Linked DNA regions of Homo sapiens: region 2 is linked to region 1. Evidence: fine-mapped expression QTL. A gene starts in region 1. The other region holds a variant in brackets. All regions are shown on one strand. Distances are from middle to middle.

The links.
Region 2: its variant is fine-mapped to the expression of CPVL in fetal neocortex (Walker 2019, PIP 0.93).

What each region holds. Positions count from the first base shown.
Region 1 is chr7:29,139,634-29,151,844 of GRCh38, reverse strand. It overlaps CPVL (carboxypeptidase vitellogenic like), which reads left to right and starts at 5,308. Exons shown (of 13, transcript NM_031311.5): 1 at 5,308-5,416. It also overlaps a transcript of CHN2 not described here. RefSeq lists an enhancer at 11,964-12,211.
Region 2 is chr7:29,053,614-29,065,824 of GRCh38, reverse strand. CPVL (carboxypeptidase vitellogenic like) reads left to right here. Exons shown (of 13, transcript NM_031311.5): 11 at 1,591-1,764. Among named protein-coding and RNA genes, the nearest start is that of CPVL-AS1, 21 kb to the left of the region's middle. The variant G/A (reference allele first, on the strand shown) is at 6,149.

The sequences.
Region 1 (12,211 bases):
TCGTCAAATCCTCAGATCAGCCTTGTAGGATTGGTGGTGTTCTCTTCCCATACATGAGAAGGCTAAGGCTTAGAGAGGTTAATTAACACAGCAAAGGTCACACAGCTAATGAGTGGCTGAGCTGGGATTCAGATGCCATCGGTCTACTCCTAAGGCCATGCCCTTAATCAGATACTATCCTGAGCACACTGGCAGGTTCATCATAATATCAATATATACCTCGCAGGGCTGATGTGAAAATTAAAAGAGATGATATATATAAAAAGTGTTGGGCAAACCATAAAATCCTTACAAAGTTTCACTATGATTATTTCTCTTGGTTTTACACAGGGCTTGCTCAGCTGTCCTTAGTGGCCATGTCTATATTAATCCCATAATTTATCCTTAAATCACCGAAGTCTTATTTGCCTGGCTTTTTCCATAGCCGAAGGGAAACTGAAAATATGCCTTTTGTAAGAAAGCCTTAACACCTGCTGCTAAAGGGCGCTAAACCATCTGGATCGTCAAAGGAGTATAGGCTCACTTACAAAAGACGTAGATTAATTTGGACATTGTTTCCCTACATAAACCAGGCATAAGGAGGCAAGCAACCCAGGGAAGGATAATCATGCTAAGAGTGGAAGCACTTATTAGAAATAATTACCATGTAATTATCCACAACTTCCCTGGAGTCTGTAGCCTGTGGCTAGTCTTAGGAGGTGCCCCTTCCTTACCAAGTACAAGGAGACTGAAGCACTTCAATAAGTTGATCAGGGCATGTGTCTGTGTCTTAGAGCTTGGTTACCGCCACCTGGGCCTACTTCTCACTTAATGAAGCCTTCAATGCTTATAGCTGAGGTGCAGAACAGCTGTAGACTTTCTTCAGCTGGATCTACCACCCACCCCTCCCTTTTTTAATAGCACAGTGTTGTTTTGCAAGTGTGTGGGTGTGACACATCTGGCTTCGTTCCTTAAGAAAAGTGTTTATTGAACAATTAATTGTGGTGCATGGGGGCTGTGACATTTCTCTTTTCGCTGTGCCTCTGAGCTGTGTTTCCAGGCTACCCGGTGGCCCCATTGAAGATCAGTAACAACACTGAAAAGGAACAATGGCTATAGAAGCCTTGACAAGTGCAGGGAGAGACCTAGACACTTCCAAGAGGGGCATGATTGCCTACAAGGTTAATCAATTCCCCTTGTTTCCATTGCAGCTCCACATTTATCTTGCTGGCAGCAGCTGCAAATGTAAAATCAGACCTACAAACTTAGACAATTGGAATTGTATTTACCTGATCAAGATGTGTAAATGATCTATTCTCTGTGTCTTCTTAACTGGAATTTAAGGAGTTCAGCAAAGCTCCGGCTATAGGTCAGTGAGAAGCATGTTTTTGTGTGGTGTCCAGATACAATTTAGTTGTCTTGGATAGACAGTTGGAAAGAACTGCAGTCACAGCCTAGAATCTTGATTGTCATGATCACCATTATTATTGTTACAGCTGCCATTTTTTGAGCCTTTATATATGACAAGCACTTTATATGTACTACTATCTTATTTCTTCCTCTTGATAATACCGCAAGATAGCTAATAGTATTTTTATCATGTACAGATGAGAAAACTGAGATTAAGTAACTTGCTTATGGTCATTAGGTGCAAGGTTCTAGATTCAAACTGAGTCTGACCCATGCTCTGAACCACTAGGGCTTAACAAACCCAAACCTCACTAGAATATGCAGGTGCAGAGAACACAAGGGCTTGTGATCGACCTGACAGTTTTAAATCTTGTTTTCAGGAAAGCCAATCAAAGAAGGCTTAACGAATCTCTTTGCAAACCGATTTGTTGGCCAACCTTTGAATATTCTCAATACAAGAGAAGGGCTAAAAATATCTATTGCAGCAGTGAAGTGGCCTTATTTTGAAAATGAGTCTTCATAGAAGTAATCAAGCTAAAATGAGGTCATTAGAGTGGACCCTAATCCAATGTCATTGGTGTCCTCATAAATAGGTGAAATTGGGACACAGAGACAGACACATGGAGGGGAGACACTGTGAAAAGACACAGAGAGAAAGCCCTGGAAGGCTGAAGCAGAGATTGGGTTGATGCTGCCACAAGCCAAGGAACACCTGGGGCTACCAGAACCTAGAAGCAGCGAGGAAGGATCCTTCCCCTCCAGGTTTCAGAGGGAACCTGGCCCTGCTGGCACTTTAATTTCAGACTTGTAGCCTCCAGAACTATGAGACAATAAATTTCTACTGTTAATAGCTGCTCAGTTACAACCTCCCTGGAAAGCACATACTCCTGTCCTATGGTTCTATTCTGTTCTGTACTATTTTGTTCTATTTTATTCTCTTTCATTAAGAAAATGGATTTCCAGGCTGGGCACGGTGGCTTACACCTGTAATCCCAGCACTTTGGGAGGCCAAGGCAGGTGGATAACTTGCGGTCAGGAGTTCGAGACCAGCCTGGCCAATATGGTGAAACCCCGTGTCTACTACAAATACAAAAAATTAGCTGGCTGTGGTGGCGGGTGCTTGTAGTCCCAGCTTACTCGGGGGGCTGAAGCAGGGAATCGCTTGAACCCGGGAGGTGGAGGTTGCAGTGAGCTGAGATTGCGACATTGCAGTCCAGCCTGGGCGGCACAGTAAGACTCTGTCTCAAAAAAAAAAAAAAAAAAAAAGGGAAACAGACTTCCCAATCTACTAATTTTGAACAACATCAGTCTCTAGAGCTCAGCATTCTTGCCCTTTCCAAGCTGGCTCCAGTCTAATTTTCTAACCTCAGTATTAGTTAACCCCCGACCCACCCTGAACACGCCTGGTGTCGCACAGTCCATCTGTCCAAGAGCACAGCATCAACCTGAGTGCAGGTGGCCTGCTCATTGCCTGTGCTGCCACCTTTCCCCTCAGTGGCTATTCATTTTTTAATGTCTAGCTTCAAGTCACCTCCTCTGACAGGATTCCCCTGGCTCTTCGGGCAGAGTCATTTGGTCCCTGTCCTCTGTTCCCCCACACACACACTTTATCAGCCCCAATTACAGCTCTTATATTGTATGATGGGATCAATCTGTGTGTCCCCTTCATCCCTTCCCCACAACTAAACTTCAAGTTCCCTAAAGAAGACTATCTTTTTTCTTGTTTTTTCTTTTTAATCAAGTGTCTAGCACAGAACCTGACACACGACAAATCCGAATACAGGGTACCCCAAAAAGGTCAGTGCAGTTTTAAGCTTTAATAACTTCTTAAGTCGAAATGCTACAAACTTACAAAACTCATTTGAACGTTTACTTCTTTTGACTCTGTTTTAATTATTTTAATAAATGTAATTTTCTCTTCTGGTTAATGTATGCCATATTTCACTCAGGGGAACTGAAACAAAAATTAAAGTTAAAACGTGTTATTCAACATTCACAGAGATAAATAGTGTTAAATTAACTTTCAAATGGTGTTCTTATAAGTTGCAGCATTTATAGCCTTGAGGTTACTAAAACTGCAGGAAGACTTTTGGGACACCCTGTTTTTGAATAAATATGCTTACAGCATGGCTCCTCCTGTGTTTACTGTAAAATTCAGTTTAGTTTTTAAGTGGTTCCACGTGGGCACAGGTATTCTTTGGCCAGTAGTTGTCCTTATACTTAGACCCAAGGAGCCCTTGTCCAGGGCCCACACTTTAGAAGGCAAATTCCAAATTCCCTCCCCAAATGGCACTGAGCCTGCTTCAAGGGTCTGCACGCCAGCAGCAGTGTTATCTGCTAATGTCTGTACTCCCATGGGCGAACATTGCTGACTCTGGTGTTCATACTCTTGTGCCCAAGAGGTGGCTGGGGGACAGCTGCTTCTGGGAAGCTTGACCGAGCTTCCACCAATGGACTAGAGCCCTGTGGGAAGAGAGGAGGTGGCTGCAAACCAGGAACTGGAAATCGCCTCTCCCTGCACCATCATATTTAAGTGCAGATCATCCAAAGTTTCAATCTGGCCTTTCATGTCAATTCCCAAGGTATATTTGTCTAGGTAGGAAGGTAGAACTTATTGTACTTAATCATTTGTTAACTTTGTTTATAACTTTTAAATATTTAGGTATCTGGCCTACAGATCTCTGTTTGTACTTTTGCCCTGGGTCCTGCATATATTAAAGGTGGGCTGATTTTGGCCTTAAAAGAATTATTTTCCCACAAACAGATTTTTCTCCTTAAAGAGCTAGGTGGGTAGGAAGTACTTCCATATGGAAGGTATGATAGCAAAGAATGACTGCAGTCACTGAGCACATACTTTGTGCTGGGTGATTTACACATAGTTTTTCAGTGAGTCCTCACAACAACCCAATAAAGTAGGTACTTAGGAGAAAACAGATATTCAGTGACATTAGTTTGTTCCAGCTCGTAAAACTAGTGCTTTAGTTAGCCTTAGTTGCATAACAAACTACGCGAAACTGAAAGTGGCTTAAAACAATTTTTCCCCCTGACTGTCGGGTTGGCTGGGCTGCTCTACTGCGGGTTTCCCTGGGCTCACTCCTGCAGCTAGCTGTGAGGAGATGGAGGTTGGCCCGGGACAGTGCAGAAGATTCCCCGTGGCCTCTCCCACCTGTCTGGCAGTTGACGCTGCTGTTGCTGATAATGATGACCCTCCTTTATTTTGTGTTATCTACTTGCCATTGCAACCTCCTTGCCTTTTTTAGTTCTTGCTCCCGTACTGTCTGGCTCGATGCCCAGCACCTGGTGGTGGCTAATAATATACACTCAGGTCACTTACAAGCAATGTGACCCTGGATGGGTTACTTAACCTCACTTAGTTTGTGTCCCCCAATTGCAAAATGGGTATAATGGTACAGAACACATCAGGTGGCTCTGAGACTCCAGCGCAGTGATTCAGGAGAGTGCTTGGCAGGACAGTGGCACTTGGTGCGAGCTTACTGCTAGTGCAGCTGGAATGTAGACCATCAGCGAACGTGTGTTGCCTTTTTAAACAGTGGGAATCAAACACCACTCGCTTTCCAAATGTAAATCCTGGGCTTGCAAGTAAGTCCTAGAGTGCAGAAATAATTTCAAAATACAGGGTTGAAATTTTAAGATAGCAGCTTTTAAAAACTGGGAGACAAAATCAAAATAAAACAAAGGGACAAACCAACCTGAATGGCACCCCGCCGATGCTCTTCATTAATTTTTAAGATTCCACCCTGGGGCTGCTTGCTTCTTCCAGCATGGGAAGCGCTGACTTGATGCGGCCAGGTTTCTGGGACCAGGAGGTTGGGACACGACGACGCACTTTTTGCCCTGTGGGTCTGGGTCATGTGAGCCTAGAGGAGCGCTTAAAGGCTCGAGTTCTGCAGGGTCCTCGTGACTGGGTGGGGCTGCCTCACTTCTGCCTGATTTGGGAAGCGCTGCAAGGACAACCGGCTGGGGTCCTTGCGCGCCGCGGCTCAGGGAGGAGCACCGACTGCGCCGCGTAAGTGCCGCCTGCCCTGCGTGGGTCGTGCCAGCTCAGCGGGACAGGTCCTCGCCTCGGTCCCTCGGACTTAGGGAGCGCGGGGCAGGTAGTCTCAAAAGCCCTCAGCACCAACAGGGGAGAAAGCACCGTAGAGTGAGACTGGAGTGGGGTGGTCGTGGCCGAGTCAAAGTTCAAATTGGAGCATTGGGGATGTACTGCGTGCGCCCAGCCGAGGGAATACTCTTGAAGTTTCCTGGCACAACTGTCGCACCCGGGGTTCTTCCAGGCTAGAAGCCGTCTCCTACTCCAGGAGCTCCTCCGGGGAAGTACGAAGCTGTGGGGTCCTCTGCCGCTCTTAGCGCGGGAGGGTGGCGGGTGCAGGACACTTTCCCTTACTCCCTCAACGCGTGTTTTGGGGATGTGTTGATTTCGTGGGTGCTCAGAAGCAAGAGAAGCGGAAAATACCTTCTATTTTGAACGTGCCCAAAGCAGGGAAACTTGGCTTCTGCCTAGGAACGCATAGGAAGACTTTTATTCTTGGAATGTAGGATTAGCAGAAACCAAGGGCACAGGAGACAGGTGGAAGCAGCTCCCTGTGAAGTGATACAGAAACAAAAGGACTTTGGAATATTTGTGGATTTAAATCCCAGTTCTGGCCTTGGCTAGTGAGTGACCTCGGGCAAATTATTTAAGCCTACTAAACCTCAGTCTTTCCATCTGAAAGATGGAGATAATAAGTTTTTCTTTTTAAAGAATTGTTTTATTGGAAATAGAAATAACATACAGAAAATGCCTCCCTAGCACGGGACTTGGCTTTTCAGCTAAGTGTAATTTTCCTTATCAGTTATGATTGATGATGAAGTCTATGGTGAAGACAGAACAAAATAATGTTTAAAACTCTGGCCATATAATGACTGTGGCTATGCATGACCCGTGTGCAGTCACCTCTGAGCCCCCCACCTTCACTGCAACCCCAGTGGGTCCCAAGCAAGGTGCTTGGGTTTTGGAGCTGGACAATTCTGTGCAATTCCTGGTTCCGGTATCCACTACTTGGATGACATCAGGGACGTAACTTATCTTCCACAGCCTCAGTTTTGGCATCAGTAAATGAAAAAGGAGCCCCTCAGTACTTGCCTTTCCCTTCCCCGGCTAAATGTACAACTCATTTTTTTTCCATTCTTTGCTTTGGGATGAGTAAGAACAAAGATGTAAGCAGAGTAAAAAGTCCATTGAGAATACATTTTATTAGCTTGGTAAATAACGTTTAAGAAAGTTGTCCAAAAGGAGAATTGGAGCACTTTTGGAAAAGTACACTGCACCGGCTTTGTTGGCATATGAAAGTCTGCATGGTCGTCAAGACCGTTTGGCTAACTGGGCATTCTAGATGTGTACCTCATGCTAGTCTAAGTACAGGGGCAACCCTTTATAATGTAGTGTCAGTGTTCTTAACCAGATGTTGTTTTATTAATCTTTTATAGGAGATGATTGTTTGGGAGGGGCAATTGATCCCCCAATTTATATAAATCCAGTTTATAAATCACTTTATAGTGGGATTCTACTAGCCTGAGAAATAGGTGGGTTTTGACTGACAGTTTGAATGACTTAGAAGAGTGTTAAGAAAGTCCACTGGGTTTACCAGTTCACTCCCCACAAAAAATAAAAACAAGAAGCAAATAATATAACAGAATTCTAAAAATGAGTTTGTTTTTGTTTTGGGAAGCATCTAGTTTGTCAGAGGAAACACTGAGTGTTGAATACTACCCTGGGATGCACAGAACTAAGGCAATGAGAGGGGAGGAACTCAGTTCTTGCCCCAGGTATCATCAGATATCTGTTTATTAGCACCCAAATACTCAAGGTAAATAGTAATGACCCATTCTTTCTTTTTTTGAGACAAGAGTCTCACTTTGTCACCCAAGCTGGAGTGGCACCATCTCTGCTCACTGCAACCTCCATCTCCCGGGTTCAAGGGATTCTTGTGCCTCAGCCTCCTGAGTAGCTGGAATTACAGGTGTACACCACCATGCCCGGCTAATTTTTGTATCTTTGGTAGAGATGGGGTTTTGCCATGTTGCCCAGGCTGGTCTCGAACTCCTGACCTCAAGTGATCCTCCCACCTCGGCCTTCCAAAGTGCTGGGATTACAGGCATGAGCCACTGTGCCTGGCCAGTGACCCCTTCTTAATAGGAAGTATGGTTCACTAAAGAGCAAACATGATTGTTTTAGTTTACCATTTCCGATGGCTTTATAATGTGAGATTTTCATTGACTGAACTAAGAACATTTAAAAGAAGTAGGCAAGCTTCTCAGAATTAGAAAGATACCTCTAGAACAATGACTCATTAACGTCTATATTGACTTGTGAGAGAGGTAAGCTGGGCAAAAAGCTAAGAACTGTACTTTCCTGGTAAAAACAGTAGTGGAGTTTGAACTTTTATACTATATTTGCAAGCTCAAAGATGTAAGCCTTAATAGACAGTTCACAAGACAGCTGTTACAGCGTATCTGAACTGAAACCAGGGTATTGAGATTGCTCTCCCTTAAGAGATATTAGAGGTATAACCTTGAACATGAAATCACATGCTTTCATTGCTTTAACTCAGACCCTGGGGTGCAGGACAGGGTGGTGGTAGTGAAAGAGGGGGAAGGACTGTGTCCTTAGATCTTGGAGCCTGAAAAAGCAAATTCTTAGCAGCTTATCTTTCCAATATAGTTGGAACTTACCTCCTACCTTTTTCTCTCTAGTCTGATTCTAGTTATTGGTTGTCTTTAAATTGCTTAGAATTGTTTACAGGCCAAAATATTTACTTTGAACCCTAAAGGTAAGCTCTTCCTCCTTTCCTTTTTGGGACTCTGTATCCCATTACCCCTCTTTCAAAAAGATAGTGCCACATATCTTTTTGTACTGTATGATTCTTGGGAGAGAATGTAACCCAGGTCCCAAGCGATTCATTTTCTCATTTATTTATTCATTTAACTAATTTTTTCCCAGTGTTTGATTATGAAAAGGTTTAAACTTTCAGAAAAGTCAAAAGAATTTTGCAATCTAGAATCTACCTAGATTCTATTATTGATTAGAAGCCAGGGTATTGATTTCAATTGATTAATCAACTGGCATTGATTAGTTCCTACTGTTTGCCTGGAGGTTTGCTCAGCAAAGCTGTAAAAACATAAAAGGCAGGGTAGGGTTAGGGAACAAGGAGAGTTTTGATTTGGCGGAGCATAGGCTAAGAGTTTGTGAAGGAATCATGTAACTTTGGTTTGAAAAGTTATGTTGAAGTTGTATCATGGAGGACATTAAATTTCATCGTAGAAAGTTTATACTTTTTCCTGGTTGCAGGTGGGAGCCATTGAAGGCATGGGAGGAATGGAGTGCCTTGTGTTTTAGAAAGCTCACTGAAGCATCAGTGTTAGGCTAAATTGGAGGGAAAAGGACCGGAAGTCTGAGAGATGTGTTAGGAAGCTTTGTAAATGTCTCGGGGCAAGTAAGGGTTGAACTGTGGATAGAATGGAGAAAAAAGGAAGTAGAATAGCACTTGGTGACAGATTTGACTTGAGGACTTCTGGTTTTAGAACTCAGGCATCTGCAATTATAAGGGAGCATCATTAAGAATCTGGAAGTCGCTGGGCATGGTGGCTCATGCTTGTAATCCCAGCACTTTGGGAGGCTGAGGCGGGCAGATCACCTGAGGTCAGGAGTTTGAGACCAGCCTGGCCAACATGGTGAAACCCTGTGTCTACTAAAAATACAAAAATTAACCAGGCGTGGTGGTGCATGCCTGTAATCCCAACTACTCAGGAGGCTGAGGCGGGAGAATCGCTGCAACCCGGCAGCAGAGGCTCCAGTGAACCGAGATTGCACCACTACACTCCAGCCTGGGCAACAGAGCAAGACTGTGTCTCAAAAAAAAAAAAAAAAGTATCTGGAAGTCATAGAAGGAGGAAGTTTGAGGAGAATGATGACGTCCTGTTATAGAGTCAGTGGGTTTGAGGGGCTGATTGGTTATCCTTTTGGAGGTGACAGCTGACAGTGGTGATACTGTCCTGAAATGCCCAATAGCAATGTCAGGACTGAACAAACATTTGGACTAGTGATTAATACTCAAGGGGTGGTTGAATGGGAATGTACGGAAAGAGAAAAAAGGATAAGATCTTGAAGAAAATCTGAATATATGGAGTCCTTGGAGCAAAAAATAAATACAGGTGTTCAATGATCTGTTAGTATTTTAATGCCTGTTTATCTACAGTGTTACTATAGCTGCAGTTCTCATTAATAATTGACCACAGTTCCTAACTAAAAGACCATATCTGCACTAGTAAAGTGAAGTAAGTCTTTCCTTTTCCCATTCTGGGAAGTTCAGGGGGTAAGGTGAGGCAGAGGAAAGAAGAAGAGAAAGTTAAATAAATTTTTTTATCTAGGACTTTTAGAGCATACAACGCTTTTTCCAGGTAACCCACTTGCAGATCAGAAGCCAGGTAATTTAATGAACTTGTCTATCTTTTCACAAGGCAACAGCTACTTTTTTTTTTTTTGAGATGGTGTCTCACTCTGTTGCCTAGGCTGGAGTGCGGTGGCACAATCTCAGCTCACTGCAACCTCTGCCTCCTGGGTTCAAGTGATTCTCCTGCCTCAGCCTCCTGAGTAGCTGGGACTACAGGCGTGTACCCCCACGCCTGGCTAATTTTTATATGTTTAGTAGAGACAGGGTTTTACCACGTTGGCCAGGATGGTCTCCATCTCCTGACCTCATGATCCGCCTGCCTTAGCTTCCCAAAGTGCTGGGATTACAGGCGTGAGCCACAACGCCCGGCCAAGGTACAGAGTTTTTAAGTGGCAGAAGCCACATTTGAAGCTGTGAAGGCATACTTTGTTTTTTTATTTTTTATTTTTATTTTTTGAAATGGAGTTTCACCCTGTCGCCCAGGCTGGAGTGCAGTGGGGCGATCTTGGCTCACTGCAACCTCCGCCTCCTGGGTAAAAGCGATTCTCTTGCCTCACCTTCCCAAGTAGCTGGGACTACAGGCATGTGCTACCATGCCCAGCTAAGTTTTGTATTTTTAGTAGAGACGGGGTTTCACTATGTTGGCCAGGCTGGTCTCCAACTCCTGACCTCATGATCCGCCCACCTCAGCCTCCCAAATTGTTGGGATTACAGGCATCAGCCACCGTGCCCGGTCTGAGGGCATACTTTAAATCTTTCATGCTATTCCCACCGGACTGCATTGCCTTCCTATATGCTACTGACTGTATGCTAGGTACTGTGTTAGGCGTTTGCACATGTAGGCTCCTTACTGTGGCCCCTCTGTTTTGAGAAGGTGATCAGCAGGGAAGCTCAAAGCACATTGCACAATTGGTTGTTGCACAATTGGCAGGATGTCTGCCCTCTGATTGTGCCTTGTTTTCACCCAACTTCTTGAACTCTACAGGAAGGGCCAGCCTCTCTCAGAAATGCCAGCCCCTAAAGCTGGTACAAAGGTCATGCAACCTTCCTACTTCCCTGAGTTCAACAATCACTTCATTCATTCTCCTTAAGATCATACCTAAAATCCTGGCTTATTTAAGGGTGAAGTGGAGAAAAGCTCTATTTTCACTTATGCATTTGTTTTACCCCATCAATCTTCTGCCTTCCCTCATTGTCCCACAGTTGTGCCTGTCTAAGGTCACTTTTTGCTTTTTTCTTATTTTCCTTCCCTGGGGAGTCTTTGGAGAGAGGGTGCGATAGAATGTGTAGCCTGGAGCAAGATTACCCCCAGTTGACTATGGAAGCCCTGAGAATTATGCTGCTTCCTCAATGCTTTTTTCCCAAAGTTAGAAGTAGCAAGTTGTATAGTGAGTAATAGGATTTGCATTGTGAATGGGGTCTTCCTCCAGTGAGGACTTTACTAAGTGCAGTGTTTATTTGTAGTGGGGCACAGAACTGCATTCCTCATGCTTTATGACAGTATTTAGGGTTTACTGGTTTTCATGCATGTCTCTCTTTGCTAGAATGAGGGCTCCTTGAAGGTGGATACTGTCCCCTTTTCATCTTTAACTACTCCACAAGTTTTAGCAAAGTGTCTCACCCTTTACTGTATGGTTAGAAAATCTCTGAAGAGTTGAGTTCTGTTAAAGGAGAGAAAACTATTTGTATAGAAGAGTGTGGGTAGAAGCCTGTTTGTTTGTTTGTTTGATGTGAGACAGGGTCTTGCCACATTGCGTAGGCTGGTCTTGAACTCCTAGGCTCAAATAATCCTCCTGCCTCGGCCTCCTAAAGTGCCGGGATTACAAGTGTGAGCCACTGTGTCCAGCCGAGGCCTGCATGTTTGAATGGATCAAGAAATGTGATTGTTTAGTGCTGAGGGAGGGTAGGTAGGTTGCAGGGAAAGGCCTGGCTAGGGAAAAGCTCATATGCTCCTAAGTCAAGCAACAAGAAATGTAGAACGTGAAATAAAGATGAAGCCATTCTGAGTCATGTGCAGACCGTGGGAAATATCTCCCTGTATTTGACAAAAGGGGAAATGGCAGCCATAGCTAATTCTGAAGATGAAAAGTGTTCCTGCCTGGGTTACTTGATGAAGAATATTATTAGCAATCAGCAAGTCAAGTGGAAATAATTTGTTTTGTTTTGTTTTCTCCCCTTCTAACTATTGGCATGTTGGTAGAATTAACTTGGCTGGCAGGAGAATGAACCGCCTGTGCCGTTGGGACACAGGAGATTTCTGAGCTGGCAGACTGCACACTCCATGTAAAACCATGACTCTTTCCACCATTCTTGTGTACACGTGTGCCTGAACATTGGTGTCTGCAAAATCCGAGACGTCTGTTTCAGAGAAA
Region 2 (12,211 bases), 86 kb after region 1:
TGTGATATTTCAGATAACTCAAAACAACTTCTGATGAACATGATTTCCCCCAAGTAGAGCTTGTTATAGAGGCACTTTTGTGAAGGACACAGGCTGGGATTGGAGTTCTGGGTCTCAGGTCCCAGAGCTTCAAGTCTGTTTACGAGTCTCTTGAAAATGCCCACATTCTTTGTTCTGTACTTAAGACGCTTGGATAATCAAAACTGCCAAAGCCTTAATGAAAATATTTGCTTTGTCTTACTTTTAAGATGTTTAATGCATTTAGTATGGCCCTCACTTCAAGCCTTCTGGAATATTTCTCAAAGTATTCAAGTAGTTTGTTTCATAAAAGTAGGCCAAAGTTGATATCTTTTGTGTAGAATTAGTCAAACAGAAGGAGCCAAAGTAGGTGTTTGAATTTGTATAATCTTTGTCTAATGCTTATGACAATGCATTCTGTTTTTAAAATTGCCTGATTTATGAACTAGTTTGTAAATAAAGTATAACGTTAGTTTCAGTGGAATTCGCCAATGCTGCAGTTTTGGATTTAGATTCTACTAAGAGAAAAACATGTGGTAGACAAGACAGAAACAAAATTTGTGATGATACCTTTTTTTCTTTACAACAATATATTCACAGTTAGTAAAAATTGTTGATGAAGCACAAAGTTGTCAAACTCAAACTTTAACAGTTTTTTTAATCCTTGTGTAACTGTTTTTTTTTTAAAGCATTTACTCCTTTCTTTCAGTATAATGATTATTACAGAGACTTTATTGCAGTTTTTTTTTTAATAAGCTTCATGGACAACTTTTCTTCTGTCTTGTGTCCTTCATAAAGTATCATCTCTTTTCACATTTGACATATTTTCCCCTTTATTATAGTCAATCCAATTTTGTGTGTGTGTGCGGTTTTTTTTATTTTTTAATTTTATTATTATTATACTTTAAGTTTTAGGGTACATGTGCACAACGTGCAGGTTTGTTACATATGTATACACATGGACACAGGATGGGGAACATCACACACCGGGGACTGTTGTGGGGTGGGGGTAGGGGGGAGGGATAGCATTAGGAGATATACCTGATGCTAAATGACGAGTTAATAAGTGCAGCACACCAACATGGCACATGTATACATGTGTGTGGTTTTAATAAACAGCAGAACACAGAAAAGAAATTCTTAGCTTTAAATCCAGCACACCACCAACCTGGCCCTTGTGATCCATTTGACCTTCTTTCCAAAGAGCCACCAACAAGGAGTGAATTGATTTTGATAATCTCATCTCTTTTGTTTTCTCTCTCTTTGCCTCTAGTGGGGTTGCTAATGGGAGTCACAGATTGCAAAAGATTAGTTTCTGCAAAGGAAAATCCTGTATTTGCAAATTGGGTATTTTAAGAGTATTTTAAGGGTATTTCAGATTTCTAATTAGTAAAAAGATTCCACCTAAATTATCTCAAAACCTCCGAGTTAAAATTTCAAGAATGGCGACAAGTTAATAGTCCCGTCACGTTTCTCCATGTTGTATGTTATGAGAAATTCACAGCTTTTCCCAACATACTGTTCCTGCCACCAATCATGTTCCCTATGTCTTTCCAATGCCCCTTCTGCCAGGAACCTGAGGATCAGCTTTACTATGTGAAATTTTTGTCACTCCCAGAGGTGAGACAAGCCATCCACGTGGGGAATCAGACTTTTAATGATGGAACTATAGTTGAAAAGTACTTGCGAGAAGATACAGTACAGTCAGTTAAGCCATGGTTAACTGAAATCATGAATAATTATAAGGTAAGAGAGCTACTTCAGTTACTATTTTAGGAACTTTCAGATTACCCAGAGCAGAAGTGATTTGTAATTTGAGTCCTGCCTTTTTTTTTTTTTTAACTTTTATGATGTGTCATTAGCATAAATAACAGCCCCTTTCTTTGTTTGATTCCAATTCAAAGTTTTATATTGTTCCTTTTAATTTAACCACTTTTGCCGTTGTGGTGACTTATACCTGTAATCCCAGTGCTTTGGGAGCCTGAGGCGGGTGGATCACCTGAGGTCAAGATTTTGAGACCAGCCTGGCCAACATGGTGAAACCTTCTCTCTACTAAAAAATACAAAAACTAGCTGGACATGGTGGCGGGTGCCTGTAATCCCAGCTACTTGGGAGGTTGAGGCGTGAGAATCACTTGAACCCGGGAGGCAGAGGTTGCAGTGAGCCAAGATCGCAACATTGCACTCCAGCCTGGGCAACAGAGCAAAAACTCTGTCTCAAAAAAATAAAAATAAAATAAAATAATTTAACCACTTTCCCCTGATTATTCCTTAAAATGAAATTCCCTTTGGCACACACCACTTCTCATCCTTTCTTGAGAAAGGAAGAGTTGCAGAGCCAAAAAGATGACTGGCCGTGTGTAAGAGCCAGATTTCTCTTATGTGTTGCTTTGTTACATGAATCCCAATGACGTCAGGGATAAATGAAATCAACTGGTTATTCTGAAAATGCATTTTGCCTAATGGTTGTATTCATTCACTTTACCCAATCACAGTGTTTTGAGTCTCTCCTTAGGGTGTGAGGTTGAAATGATGAATGAGAAAGGGTCCCTGTTTGGAAGTAGGTCAAGTCAAGCCATTGTGCTGTCTGGTTGAAATGCTCTGCCTTTGCTGCCAGTGGAGGTGCCAGTGGAGAGTGAGGTCACAGAAAAGGAGCCCTGGAGGTTCAGGCAAAGAAGACATGGGCCCTGGAACTCCCACTGGGAAGGAGGACACCAAGAGCAAATGACATGGGGAAAGTCAGCCTGTGTATTATTTCTTTCCTGGTACTACGCTCTCAGCTCCTCCTCTGGTCCTCCAGTGCTGTTAGCCTTTGCCCAAGGGATCGTCTCTAGGGCAACTCCGAAGGATGCCTGTACTGATGACTGGGGAGACCACCACTGAGTGATCCACTTCCTCCCTATATCCTGTTTTGAATGAACAAAAAACAGGGCAGTCGGCAGCCCATAGGATTTTTGTATGAATTAGAATAAAGGCATCCTCTCCTCAAGATACTTTATTTCGATCTTTCAGAAATTGTCCTGATATACTGCCTTAGTTAAAACCAGACTCTTTACTGCCATTTGCTGGCATGCTGAATATTCATTTCTACAATGTGTATATTAGGAATGGTGTGTCTTAGGATTGTTCAGTGCACAATCTGCAATACTATCCAGGCAGTCCCTGGCCAATGCACCCTAACTAGACTGTGGTTTAGAATATGCCAGACCTAGGAGGCCCATTTCTGGGTCCTGCTTCTAGTACAGTGTTGGACACGTAACCATTGTTGAAAATAGTTTAAGACCAATTATATGCCAAGTCTACAAACCCATTATAAACCTGCAAAACTTGATGAAATACTTACTTTCTTGGAAAGAAAGAGTCTAACTAGGTCAGGCCAGCATTTCAGCCATCCTTGTGTTTGGTTTTCTTGGGGACATGTAGTGGCCCTTAGTGCTTGCTGCTTCAAGACTTCTCAGAGGACCTCCAGAAGGCACTGCTGTTTGTCCTCTCCTCTGAGCTCTCAGAACGCGTTGTCTTTACCCCCATAGGTGTACATGGCACACTCTAACGTGCAGACTCTCAGTCTGACACCCATACCACCACCAGCCTGGAGCAGATGTCAGGAATGAATGAATGATTAGTGCTGTATCAAAAATATATCTATAAACCTGTCCATAATCCATTAGGTGCTTATTATCCACAAATTTATTAAACCAAAAAGAGGTTAGCGTTCATGTCTTAAAGATGATGTTCTGTAATGTGATGTTAAGGAATGGAACGAGTGAATTTTTTTGAGAGGAGAGCAGATAAGTTTGATATGTGTTATTTGTGCCCTTGGGAGATATATTTTCTCACTGTACACACTTTTTTTTTTTTTTTTTGAGATAGAGTTTTGCTCTTGTTGCCCAGCTGTAGTGCAATGGTGCGACTGGCTCACTGCAACCTCCACCTCCTGGGTTCAAGCAATTCTCCTGCCTCAGCCTCTCAAGTAGCTGGGATTATAGGCATGTGCCACCATGCCCAGCTAATTTTGTATTTTTAATAGAGATGAGTTTTCTCCGTGTTGGTCAGATTGGTCTCAAACTTCTGACCTCAGGTGATCCGCCCACCTCGGCCTCCCAAAGTGCTAGGATTGCAGGCATGAACCACCGCACCTGGCCTCACTGTACAAATTTAACTAGAATATGATTCCTTTCTCAGCCATGTGAGGGTAAGGTGGGACAAACAGCTTACCTGATGACATAAACTCTCCTTATGTTTTGACTGATAAAGGAGAATATATTGATTAGAGGTGATCCTGCATTTTGATATTTAAACTTCTCTGTCCCTCTTGCCCATGTATCCTAAACTTACCACTATGAATTCCAATAAAATCAAAATCCAGTATTTTCTAAACTTTTCTTTTCTTTTTTGAGACAGAGTTTCACTCTGTTGCTCAGGCTGGAATGCAGTGGCACGATCTCGGCTCACTGCAACCTCCACATCCCGGGTTCAAGTGATTCTCCTGCCTCAGCCTCCTGAGTAGCTGAGATTACAGGCACATGCCACCATGCCTGGCTAATTTTTTTTCCGTATTTTTAGTAGAGACAGGGTTTCACCATGTTGCCCAGGCTGATTTCAAACTCCTGACCTCAGGTGATCCACCCGCCTCGGCCTCCCAAAGTGCTGGGATTACAGGTGTGAGCCACCGTGTCTGGCATAAACTTTTCAACTCTGAATCGGTTGCCAGAAAAAGAAAAGAGTTTAGTGGTATAGATAAACCATATTTCCATAAAGAAACAGAACAAAATATGCCACCAAAAAGTGGCTGCTGCTAAAACAGACAGCATGTTCACTCACGCAGCTGGCAAAGCGCTTGGGATAGTGATTATCTTTGGCTTGTCTGTTAATGATGTTGAACCTCAGTGTTCAGAACGGGAATCAGAACAACCTAGGTTGGCTTAAAACGTTAGTACCATTAAAGTCATATTTATGTAAGACTCGGTACTAATTTGTCATAGAAAATAGCATGCCTGTTTCTATTCATAGGAACTAGAGGTCTTTTTCCAGTACTGGGTTCATTTTGGCCAATGTGGAGCATCTCTGATGGTTGAAGGAAGACCTTCCTGGGTTTCTGGAATTACGTTTTCATGTAGTTTCTGTATAAAAATTAGCTTCTCTGTAAACTACGTTAGTTTCTATGTAAGCTACGTGAAAACATAATCCTTTTCTTACAGTGATATACAGGAGATGCATACTCAAAAGTCATTTTCCTTTCAGTAATTTCAGATGTTTGGGTGGTAAATTGAAATATCATATTGGCAGTTTCAAAAATAACTAGAAAGAGAAACAATCTGTTGGGCTATTTGAATTCTTTATGACTGAATGAAGTCAAAACATGATCAGGACTTTTAGGAGTTAGCTGGTTAATAGAGTATGGTGGTTATGAACATGTTCTTAAGTTGCATATCTTGAGTTTGAGCTCTGGTTACACCAGTCACTGGCTATGCTCCTTTGGGAGAGGAAACTTAAACTCTCTGCGCTTTGGCTTCCTTGTCTATAAAACAGGAATAAAAACAGTATTTATGTGTGAGTTTCTGTGAGGTTTAAATGAGATTATATATGTAAACACACTTAGAAGAGTGCCTGATGGTTAGAAGGTGCTTATTTATATATATATAAGCTATTACCAAAAATGTTCAACAAATTTTGTGAAAGTCTTTAAGATCTTGCTACATTCAAAAGTTATACAAGAAACCCTGGAAAACACAAAAATAAAAAAGAATGGACAGGCTTCCAGTTTCCATTCCAGTGTGTAAGAAGCTTAGAAGTCTCCACTCCATTGTAACAACAGTAAAAAGCCAAACAAACTGAAATATAATCAAGAACTCTTTTTAGATTTGTTGAAACTGAGGTCACAGGGCAAATTGCTGCCCTCCAAAATTAGAGAGAGAGATGAATATAGGGAGTCAAAACTTAACAGGAGCAAACCTGTAAGTAGAACCCTCCATGGAAACAAATGGTGAGGAAGGGAAACCTGAACAGTAATTGGTAAATTACTAGAGGCTCCATAGGGACAAGTCTGAGAGTTTAAAACACCATGGGTGGGGAGAGGACTCAGCCAAAGGTCACTTGTAAATGACCTTTATTATGTTGAGGGACTTTTCTT[G/A]TATACCCAGACTGTTGAGTGTTTTTATCAAGAAAGGATGTTGGATTTTGTTGAATACTTTTTGTGTCAATTGAGATGATCATGTGGTTTTGTCTTTCAGTCTGTGATGTGTCACTTTGATTAACGTACCTATGTTAAACCAGTCTTGCATGCTAAGGGTAAATCCCACTTGATCATGCTGTAGAATCTTTTTGGTGTATTGTTGAATTTGGATTGCTAATATTTTATCGATAATTTTTGCATGAATGTCAGAGTTACAGCCTTGCAGTTTTCTTTTTTCTTATGATATCTTTGCCTGGCTTAGGAATCAAGATAATACTTGCCAAAAAATCTATGATTAATATGCTAAGGATTTTAATGGAAAAAGTAGACAACCTGCAAGAACAGATGGATATTGAAAATAGAGATATGGAGATTATAAGAATCAAAAGGAACTGTTAGAGATCAAAAACACTGTAACAGAGATAAAGAATGTCTTTGGTGGGCTCACTAGTAGACTGGACACAGCTGAGCTAAGAGTAGCATGAGGATGTAATAAATAAAAGCTTCCAAAACTGAAAAGTAAAGAGAACAAAGACTTAAAAAAATTTTTTTTGAATAGCCTTAACTGTGGGACAACTACAAAAGATGTAACATACACATAAAGGGAATACCAGAACAAGAAGAAAGAGAAGGAAATGGAAGCAATATTTAAAGCAATAATGATTGCAAACTTTCCCAGATTAATGTAAAACATCAAAGCACAGATTCCAGAAGCTCAGAAAACATGGAGTCAGATAAATGCCAAAACAAAATAATCAAGAAAAGGAGGCAAGTCATATGGAAGCTTCAAAAAAATCAAAGATAAAGAAAAAAAGTCTCAAAAGAAGCCAAAGGGGAGAAAAACCTTACCTATAGAGAAGCAAAGGTAAGAATTACATCTAGGTTCTCCTCAGAAATCATGCCAACAAGAAGAGCATGGAGTGAAATATTTAAAGTGTTGAGAGAATAAAACCCACCAACTTAGAATTCTGCACCTTGCAAAAGTATTCCTCAAAAGTGAAAGAGAAATAAAGACTTTCTCAGACAAACAAAAATTGAGGGAATTTGTTGCTAGTAGACCTGCTTTGTAAGAAATGTTAAAGTAAGTTTTCAAAGAGAAGATAAGTGATATAGGTCAGAAACTCACATCTATATAAAGAGAAGAAGAGCATTGGATAATGATTAAATGAAGATGACATAATTATTTATGTAGAAAATCCAGAAGAATCAACAAAAAAGCCTCTTGGAATTAATAAGTGATTAATCATAACAAGGTTGCAGGATATAAGGTTAATATAGAAAAGTTAATCACTTTCCTATGTACTCCCAATAAACAAGTGAAATTTGAAATTAAAACACAGGACTATTTACATTAGCACCCTTCAAAAATGAAATACTTAGATATAAATACAACAAAATATGTATAAGATCTATATTAGGAAAACTGCAAAACTCTGATAAAAGACATCAAGAACAACTAATAGTTGGAGAAATATTTTGTGTACATGGATATGAAGACTCAATATTGTCAAGATGTCAGTTCTTCCCAACTTGATCCATAGATTCAATACAATCCCAATCAAAATCTCAGTAACATTTTGTAGATAAGGATAAATTGTTCTAAAGTTTCTAAGGAGAGGCAAAAGACACAGAATAACCAACACAACATTGAACAAGAGGAATAAAGTCAGAAGATTGACATTACCCAACTTCAAGACTTACCATAAAGCTACAATAATTAAGATATTATTTATTGTAATAATTAAGTATGGCATTGGCAAAAGAATAGGCAAATAGGTTGATGGACTAGAATAGAGAGCCCAGAAATATACCCACATAAATATAGTCAACCGATCTTTGATAAAGGAGCAAAGGTTATACAATGTAGCAAAGATAGTCTTTACAACAAATGGTGCAGGAACAAATGGATATATCCACATACAAAACAAAATAATGAAATAGACACAGATCTTACACCCCTCACAAAAATGTTCTCTGAATGGATTGTAGACCTAAAGGTAAAACATAAAACTATAACACTTGTAGGCATTAACTTAGGAGAAAATCTAAATGACCTTGGGTATGGTGTTGATGTTTCAGATACAATGCTAAAGGAACAATCCATGAAAGAAATAATTGAGAAGCTGGACATCATTAAAATTAATAACTTCTACTTTACCAAAAACAATGTCAAGTAAATGAGAAGATAAGCCACAGAGTGGGAGAAAATATTTGCAAAAGACACATCCGATAATGGACTGTTAACCAAAATATATTTTTAAAAACCCTTATAGCTCAACAATAAGAAAATGAACAACCCAATTTAGAAATGGGAAAAAGACCTGGGCACCTCACCAGTGAAAATATACAGATGGTAAGTAAACATATGAAAAGATGTTGGCTGGTTGCCAGTGGCTCATGTCTATAATCCCAGCACTCCAGGAGGCCAAGGCGAGAGGATCACCCAGGAGTTTGAAACCAGCTTGGACAACATAGAGAGACCCTGTCTCTACAAAATAAAAATAATTAATTAATTTATTAGCTGGATGTGGTGGTGTGCACCTGTAGTCATGGCTACCTGAGAGGCTGAGGTGGGAGGATCACTCGACCCCAAGAGTTCAAGGTTGCAGCAAGTCATGACTGTGCCACCGTACTCTAGCCTAGGCAACAGAGTGAGACCCTGTCTCAAAAAAAAAAAAAAAAAAAGAAAAGGAAAAGATGTTCAACATCATATGTCATTAGGGTATTACAAATTAAAGCCATGAGATACCACTTCCAGACCTATTGGAATAGCCAAAATCCAAAATACTGACAACACTAAATGCTTACAAGGATGTGGAGCAATAGGAACTCTCATTCTGGTGGGAATGCAAAATGATACAGCCACCTTGGAAGACAGTTTGAAAATTTCTTACAAAATTTAATATACTCTTACCATACCATTCAGCAGTCATTCTCTTTGGTATTTACCCAAATGAACTGTAAGCTTGTGTCCACACAAAAATCTGTACAGGGCTATTTATAACAGCTTTATTCATAATTGCCAAAACTTGGAAACAACCAAGATATTCTTCAGTAGGTGAATGAATAAACTAGTCCAGACAATGAAATTTTATTCAGTGCTAAAAAAAACGAGCTATCAAGCCATGAAAAGACATGTAGAAAACTTAAATGCATATTTCTGAGTGAAAGAAGCCAATCTGAAAAGGCTACGTACTGTATGATCCCAACTATGTGACATTCTCTAAAAGGCAAAACTATGGAGACTGAAAAGATCAGTGGTTGCCAGGAGTTGGGGGAGGGAGGGATCAATAGGCAGAGCACAGAGGATTTTTAGGGCAATGAAACTATTCTGTGTGATACTTCAATGGTGGATACAAGATGTTATGCATTTGTCAAAACCCATGGACCGCATAACACCAACAGTGAGTTCTAATGTGAACTGTGGACTTTAGGTGATTTGATGATGTTTCAGTGTAGCTTTGTTAGTGTAACAAATACATCGCTGTGGTGAGGGATATTGATAGTGGAGGAGGTTGTATGGGAGAGGGCATAAGGGGTGCATGGGAACTCTGTACTTTACACTCAATTTTGCTATGAACCTAAAACTGCTCTGAAACACAAAATTTACTAATTTATTAATTTACCTTTTTTTAAGTTAATTGTCTTCCTAGTAAAGGGGATAGATGCTAGTATATTTGATAATGGGTAGATTCAATTCCTACATCCAGCAGACTGGTAAAGTAGACTCTGTGAAGGAAAATACAACTAAAATACAATTGAATTCAGGATAAATGACAACAAACATAATTGTAATGCCTTTAATAAAATGAAAGTGGATCTGAAAACAAAAACAACACCAGAAAAACAAAAGGCAGAGAAGGGAATTCTGTGGAGCAAGAGCAATAAGGCAGGGTGGCCCTGAGAACCAGTGTCCTCAGTGCTGGGCTGGCAGCTGGCAGCTGGGCTGTGGGCCCAAGTAAAGTGACACTGCTGACCTGAGAGCCCAGCACCAGGGCTGGGACATGTGGAGGGCCCAAACTGGTCCCACAGTGCTAGGAACTCTGGCAACTAGCAGAAGCAAATACACTTAACTTAGTGGTAGGGCCGGGCACGGTGGCTCATGCCTGTAATCTCAGTGCTTTGGGAGGCTGAGGTGGGCACATGACCTGAGGTCAGGAGTTCAAGACCAGCCTGGCCAACATGGTGAAACCCCATCTCTACTAAAAAAGTAAAAAATTAGCCAGGTATGGTGGCGGGCGCCTGTAATCCCAGCTACTTGGGAGGCTGAAGCAGAAGAATTGCTTGAACCTAGGAAGCAGAGGTTGCAGTGAGCCGAGATTGCACCACTGCACTCCAGTTTGGGTGACAGAGTGAGACTCCCTCTCAAAATAAATAAATAAATAAATGAAAAGAAAATAGAGGTGTTTACAGTCTCTCAGATTTTTCAAAAATATAAAGCCATTTTCAACAAAAATGTAAGCTTGTAATCAAAAGTCACCTAACACAAAAGTAAACAGGCTACAGCCTGTGAATAAACAGAAACAAATATAAGAGAGAAAGATAGCCAAGGCACTTTCAGATATAGGACATATGAGAGATAAAACAACTATGTATGAAATATTTGAAGGCATAAAAATGGAGTTACAAAACAAGCAATAAATGAGAAACTAATAAATATGGCTAGGCAAATTTGAAAGAGAACAAATTGTAATCATTAAAAATGAATGATACAGTTGTTGAATTTAAAACTCAGTGCATGGGTTAAAGAGTAGATTAGACAGTGCTGAAGATAAATTTAATGAATCAGAAGATAGATCTGAAGAAATTACCAAAATGGAACACAGGAAGAAAAGATAAAAAGTTTGAAGGGAGATTAAGAGGCATTAAGAAGAGAATACTATATGTCTAAGCAGAGTCAGAGAGGGTAAGAACAGAAAGAATGAAAAAAAGCCATTTTTAAGAAACAGTGGCTGAAAATTTGCCATATCTGATAAAGGTTATGAATGCACAGACACATGTACTGAAGCACATATACAATAAGCAGTGGGAGAGAGAAAATAAATTCATATTTTAGGTGGTTTTAATGAAATTGAATAATAGCAAAAAGCAAAGAGAATGTTTTAAAAGTCAGAAGGAAAAGGCAGGCCATCTACAAAAGGAGGACAATCAGACTGACAGACTTGTCAGTGACAGCAATGGAAGGCATAATATCTTCAAAGTGCTAAAATGAGATAACAATCTAGAACTACATTTCAAGTAAAATGGTAGAATAAAAGTATTTTCAGATTTAACAAAAAAATTATTTCAAGTGCATTTAGAATCAACAGATTTTCACTAAAGGAGCTTCTAAAGAATATATTTAGGAAAAATAAATTACTCCAGAATTATTCCAGGAAGAAAATCTGAGCTACAAGAAGAAATACTAACTATAGAAATTGATAGAAATAATATTTTATCAATGTTAATGTTCTGGTTTTGATCATTGTACAATGGTTGTGTAAAATGTTAACATTTGTTAAGGCTATGTAAAGGGTATACTATTTATTTAACAGATTTTGTTTGTTTTGTTTTGTTTTGTTTTGTGACAGGATCTTGCTCTATTACCTAGGCTGGAGTACAGTGGTGTGGTCATATCTTACTGTCTCAAACTCCTAGGCTCAAGCTCTCCTCCAGCCTCAGTCCCCCAAGTAGCTGGGACTATAGGCATGTGCTGGCTAATGTTGGCTTTTCTTTTTCTTTTTTCTTTCTTTTTTTTTTTTTTTTGTACAAACAGAGTTTTGTTCTATTGCCCAGGCTGGTGTCAAACTCCTGGCCTCAAGCAATCCTCCCACCTCAGCCTTCCAAAGTGCTGGGATTACAGGTGTGAGCCATTGCAGCCAGCCTCTGTAGCAGATTGACTGAGATATAATTTACATACCACAGAATTCACTCATTTCAAATGTACAAGTTAGTGGTTTTTGCAACTGCAATTTTCTCTGCAGCCATCACCACTATCTAATTTCTGAACATCTTCATCACATCTGAAAGAAAAAAGAAAAA